Regions from separate parts of the Homo sapiens genome. Here region 2 is linked to region 1. The links come from fine-mapping of genetic effects on gene expression. A gene starts in region 1. The other region holds a variant in brackets. All regions are shown on one strand. Distances are between the middles of the regions. Region 1 holds the start of SLC1A1 (solute carrier family 1 member 1). Region 2 has its middle 68 kb from the start of PLPP6.

Evidence for each region. PIP is the estimated chance that this variant, and not a neighbour inherited with it, causes the effect.
Region 2: its variant is the best candidate, but not a certain one, in a credible set for the expression of SLC1A1 in lung (TOPMed, PIP 0.62).

The regions. Positions count from the first base shown.
Region 1 is chr9:4,489,069-4,491,946 of GRCh38, reverse strand. It overlaps SLC1A1 (solute carrier family 1 member 1), which reads right to left and starts at 1,479. Exons shown (of 12, transcript NM_004170.6): 1 at 1,177-1,479. The coding sequence starts at 1,267. It also overlaps a transcript of GLIS3 not described here. RefSeq lists a silencer at 1,252-1,681 and an enhancer at 1,832-1,881.
Region 2 is chr9:4,592,743-4,595,650 of GRCh38, reverse strand. It overlaps a transcript of SPATA6L not described here. Among named protein-coding and RNA genes, the nearest start is that of PLPP6, 68 kb to the left of the region's middle. The variant A/G (reference allele first, on the strand shown) is at 1,448.

The DNA.
Region 1 (2,878 bases):
GCCCTATCCCCACCCTGAGGGGAGGGGGCGGTTCGGAGGAGAAGCAAGCAACACCATATATTCTGAGATTTAGGAGCAGCAGTTGGAGAGGAAGGTACCTGAGGTTGGGAGGAAACAAGCTGTCCCCACTTGCCTTTTCAGCAAACACAGCTGCAGTTTCCAAGGGGAAGGTGGAGCCTGCCGAGGAATCCACATTCCTCAGAGGGTGCAACAGCCCTCACCTGCTGAGGAGCTATCACTGGGAAGGCGACAGATATGGCGCTAATCCCAAGGAAGTGCATCCCCGGGCCGGAGCTAGAAACACACAACCTTGGTAAAAAATCAGAATCTAAATAGGAATAACTCATACCTCTGAGCAATGGCTCAGACATCCACCTGGTCCAGTGATCTGTGAGGGGTGGATCACTTAAATACACCCTTGTTTAAAAACAGGCAAGGATGGCTTAAACATTATCTTAAATACAAAAACAACGTGGAGAGCAAGGAAGGCAGGAGAAGAGACGGCTGAGTTCTCTTAGCTCTCTTCCCCGGTGACCTCCCGCGGGCCACAGTGGCACATCCCAGAATTCAGGCACGAATCTGGCAGCTTTTCAGAGCCCGGGTGCAGGCAGTCGGCGCTCGCCGCGTGGGAAGGCACCTTTCCACGCACTGCCCAGGATGAGCGGCGACAGCGTTCTCAGCCTCCCTCCCCTAAGGGTCCGGCCCATCCCGGAGGCCAGGGTGCCTCTTCCAATTCGACTGAGAACTGTAATCCACACTCAATCTCTGCCCGCGCAGCGAGGCTGGGGGTGTGGGGTGAGGAAGGTGGCGGTGATAGGGGGAGATACGGTGCGGGATTAACAAAGAAAAAAATCGAACCCTGTTTTCAAACGAGCAGAACCAAGAGCTACTTGCTTCCCTTTCTACCCCCAAGCCCCTTTGATCATTTTGGGTAGAGCAGGAACCAGCAGCTCAAGGAGCACTCAAATGGGAGTCCCAGAGGAGCTTTGTTCTTGGTGTGCAGTAATTAGAGCGCTTGGGGGAAAGCCCCCGCAGGGGGCCCGAGGCTAAGGCCGAGGGGGCATCGAGGGACCCTGCATGGAGTGCGCCAGCGCCAAGCCCACCCTCAGCCGCACGCGGCCTGGGCGCAGAGAGCGCGTGAGGGTGCGCGCATCGCCCACCCGCCGCGCCGCTCACCTAGCACCACCGCGGCCACGGTGGACAGCAACACCCAGTTATTCTTCAGGAAGCGCTTCCACTCGCATCCTTTCCTCGCCGGTTTCCCCATGGCTGTCGCCGCTATTGTGCGCTGGGCTCGGCCGTGCGCGCGTGGGCTGGGCGACCCGGGGACTGCTGGCTGCTCGGCGGCGCGGCGAGATGCGGGTGCACAGGGGAGAGGTGAGAGCCGGCCGCTGCAGTCGCCGCCGTCACCACCGCCGTTGCCGCCGCCACCCGGGATCGCGCACCGCGCCCGCCGCCCTGCCAGCCCGGTAGTTTTGCGTGGCAGGCGCGCCCGGCTCCTCCTGCTGCCGCCGCGCTCTGCGGCGCCTGGGCCAACCAGCGAGGAAGGAGGGAGGAGCGGCAGGCCCGGGAAGGAGGGTGGGTGCGTGCGTGGGACGCCCGGGGTCCCTAGGGAGCAGGCGTGGTAGGGCGCCCAGCGCTGCGGCAGGAGCTGGGGCGGCCTCTCCGGGAACCCTGAGTCCCGCCCCACAGCCTTCCACTGGAGTCTGTCTCGCTTTCCACGCCTCACTCATGCTAGGGCTTTGGGTTAAGGGTTTTCTTCTGTCCCTAACCCAGAGAGGCGGAGCCACTGCCCTCCTGGGCGCGGACTTCATCCTGCACGTCTCCCTCTCCGTTCTCCACACCAGCTATTTCCAGCGCCGGCACCTGCAGAACGGGTGCCCTTTCAAGTCGGGGGAAGCTGATCCTGCCTTGGGTCCCTCTTGCTCGGCTACTCAGGCTGGGATGTGCCAGCAGCCGCGAAAGCCTGAAGCTTCTGGGAGGAGAGAAAGGAGTCCTGGGGCAGAACATGGCTTTGGAAACTTTCACGCGGAGCCTCCAGTGCCCCCACAGGGATTATTCTCCTCTTCGAGTCGCTGGAGGTGATTTGTCTGTGGACACTGGGCTTGGGAGTGTTCCCTGCACAAGGAGATGGTGATTTCTCTTAGAACTTTACTTCTGCTCCTTGGGACTTGCTCTGTGACCACAGGCCCTGGAGCATGGAGGCTTGGGGCAGTGATTAGAACTGAGAACCGGACCCGGGAGCCGCTCTGGGGAGAAAGTGGGCGGTCCATCCCCTAAGGTCCAACGGATTGGAAAGGCAAACACAGGAGAAACTAGGTTAGTGGTGCCAAATATATTTGGTGTTGCTAAGTGAATTTCTGATGCTCTTCCATTTTTCTACCCAATTTTTTCACTCTCACGTATACAATCTCTTTCCCTCCCTTTACCAAATCAGTACCTCCGCAGCTGTAAGCGGTCTTCTTATCAGCGTTCCTAAAGTTAAGTGAGCCTGGAACCCTTTTTGCTATTGTAGAATCTACTCTGATTGTGGGTAGGGAGAATTTCCCCTACTAGATTTTCTGATGACTAAATCCCCACAATTAGAGCTTCATCCCTTTGGTGTAAATTGATACAAGCATCTTTTAAGCGATAATAGATTAAGATTTACAACCCTGTAGACTTTAGTATGAATGAGTTTATCAGCTCTTTATAGAAAGTAAACTTTGAGAGAAAGAAGGTTAGAGGGATTTTAAGGTCGTTGGGTGTCCGAGGAAGATCTGAAGAAATGTCAGAAGGGGACCCGGGTGCGGTGGCTCTTGCCTGTAATCTCAGGACTTTGGGAGTCCGAGGCGAGCGGATCACGAGGTCAGGAGATTGAGACCATCCTGGCTAACAC
Region 2 (2,908 bases), 100 kb before region 1:
CAGACCAGGTAGAGAAGAGATTTGGGAGAGTGAGGCAACTGGGGAGAGTATAATGAAGCATATGTATATAGAGAAGAGGAAATGTCCTTTGGGGTATCTTCTGAAGTGTCCTAAATATTCAGGCGAGTATTTTCAACTTGTGCTGTAGACAATAAGAAGCCGTTAGAGTTTTGGAGCCAGAAAGCAAAGTATTAATCTGATGATCTTGTGCAGGATGGTTTGGGAGTAGGTAGAGGCTGGCGGTGGGGAGACTCTGACAAAGCCTTTGAAGAAGTCTGAAAATTAGGGCAATAGAACCTCAACTGAGTAGGAGAGTCACAGGAAAGAGAAGGGCTGATTAGACATCAGGGCTGGGAAGACATCATGAGACAACTTATTTTAGGGGTGCTTAAAAACCTGTGGGTGTATGGGGGAGGTACCTGGCCCTTTTAAGGAAGAAGTGGTTAAGTCCGGTGGCCTGGGCTTGTTACAAAGTGAAGGTGAACTACTTAGTCAGCAGAATGAGGTATTGATGGAGAGAATAATTGCCCTGCAGAAATAAGGACACAGTGTCCTTCATTTTGTGGATTCATATTCTTCATGATGTGTGAGGCAAGATGAACTCAACGACTAAGAGAACAAAATAGGAGCTCAAATGAAATCCTTTAGGGACTTTTCTTTTTGTGGTCTCTTTTTGGCCAGGGAGATAGAATAGGGAACACTTAGAATTACTAGGGGTCAAGGTGGGTGTTGAGAAGAATGGAGGCCTTGTCTGGGATTTTGTTTAGTATTTTTTTAATCCCTCTGAATCTTGTTCTTATCGTGAAGGCCTTATGGTTGTAAATAGAATTTAGAGGATTATCAAAATACAAGTTGTTTATTCAAGAATTACGTGGGAAGAGAAAATGCAGGAGTACACCATGTCCAGTGATTCATGTCTGGACAGAGGCTAAGTCTTGGGTCACTCGCTTCACAAAGAGGCATCACTGTTCACTCAGGGGCTCCCACCTGAATCCCAGAGCAGACGGATTCAAATAAATGCACCAACCTCTATAGACCTGCCTTGCAACCTCAAACCTCTTGGGGTCAAAAGCAAGAAGAAATGTTTATGATCCTAGATTGTAGGGGAAATAATGGTGATTTTTAAAAACACAATTCCCCGCTGGGCGCGGTGGCTCACACCTGTAATCCCAGCACTTTGGGAGGCTGAGGCAGGCAGATCATGAGTTCAGGAGATCAAGACCATCCTGGCTAACACGGTGAAACCCCGTCTCTACTAAAAAATACAAAAAAAGTTAGCCAGGCATGCTGGCGGGCGCCTGTAGTCCCAGCTAGTCTGGAGGCTGAGGCAGGAGAATGGCATGAACCCGGGAGGCAGAGCTTGCAGTGAGCTGAGTTCGCGCCACTGCACTCCAGCCTGGGTGACAGAGCGAGACTCCGAAAAACAAAAAACAAAAAACAAAAACCC[A/G]CAATTCCCAATCTGGGAAAGAGAGACTACAGAAAAGATTGATGAGATTGATTTTGGATAAGTTCAGTTTAAAAAGATGGTGGAAAAGCCAACAGAAAGTGGTCAGTAGAAGTTGGAGGTGGGGATCTGAGGTTTGGCTTGGAGATCAGGGCAGGAGAAACCAAGGGCAGCTGTAGACTTTGTGGATACACATTTTTGTTAATCATCTGCATAGAGATGGTAGTGGAATCCATAATATTGGAGGAGTATCTGGTGGAGAGAGGAAGACCAGAAGGATGTGAGCTTGTTCATTTATTCCACAAATATTTGAGGGGACCCTGTGTGTGTGGCACAGGGAGAGATGAGACCCACAGTAAGGGAGCAGCAGGAGGAGGTTACAAAGGTTGTGGAAGAGTGGTGGAAAACGGTCAGGCGGGGCAGAATCTGGTAATGTCTTGGAAGCCAAGGAAAAATAACTTAGTGGAATATAAAGCTAATCAACAGTGACATATGTTGCAGAAGAGTAAAAATTGATGACTGAGAAAATGCCTTTTGGATTTCATGAGCAGGGCACTGATGACCTCGGAGTTTCAGGAATGTTGTGGAAGCCCGACTGTAGGGGATTAGGTGTTTGTGAGTGGGGAGGAAATGGAGTCACAGTATAAAGAATAAAAAGCAGCCCCCAAAATTTGGCAAGAAAAGGAAAAGAGAAATAGGGTTCCAGTTTTTATCCTGACAACTCCCCATCCCTGGTTTTGGAAAAGAAAGGGATTTTGGGGAGAGTTGGGGTTTGAGTGAAAGATTTAAAGGTGATATAAGGGAGGGATACAATGATATTGTATACCATAAAGGAGGTGAGGCTGGGCAGCTAGATGAGGTGGGAGATAATCTAGACATATTTAAAATTAATTTTTGCTAGAATGGGAAAACAAACAGCAATTTGAAGGAGCAAATTTGGTTGTATCAAATAAAATGTCATGATTAGAAAGCTTGTAAAGAGGTGACGATTGGATACTGTCATGCATTTCCTCTTACTTTTTAGGCATTTTGAAGCATTATATCTTAATAGTTAGGAAAAGACTTGGAATCATGTGAGTCCCAGCTCTGTGAACTTGGGCAAAGTACTTAACCTCCCTAAGCCACAGTTTCCTCAACTGGGAAACAGATGGTAATATGACCTGCCTAATAGAAGTGTTAAGAAGAATGCATGAGACTATGCATGTAAAATATTTAGTACAATCTCAGCACATAGTTAGTGCTTGGTGTTAGCAGTGATTCTTTTTTTCTTAAACCACTTTATTCAGGTATGATTGGCATACTAAAGGTGTACATATTTAGCATGTACAACTTGGTGAGTTGTGAAACCATCACCAAAGTCTATGCCATAAACCTATCCATCATCTCCAAAAGTTTCCTCTCACCTTCTTTATTTATTAATTATTTTGGGGGATATGATAAGAACACAACGTAAGAGCTACTATA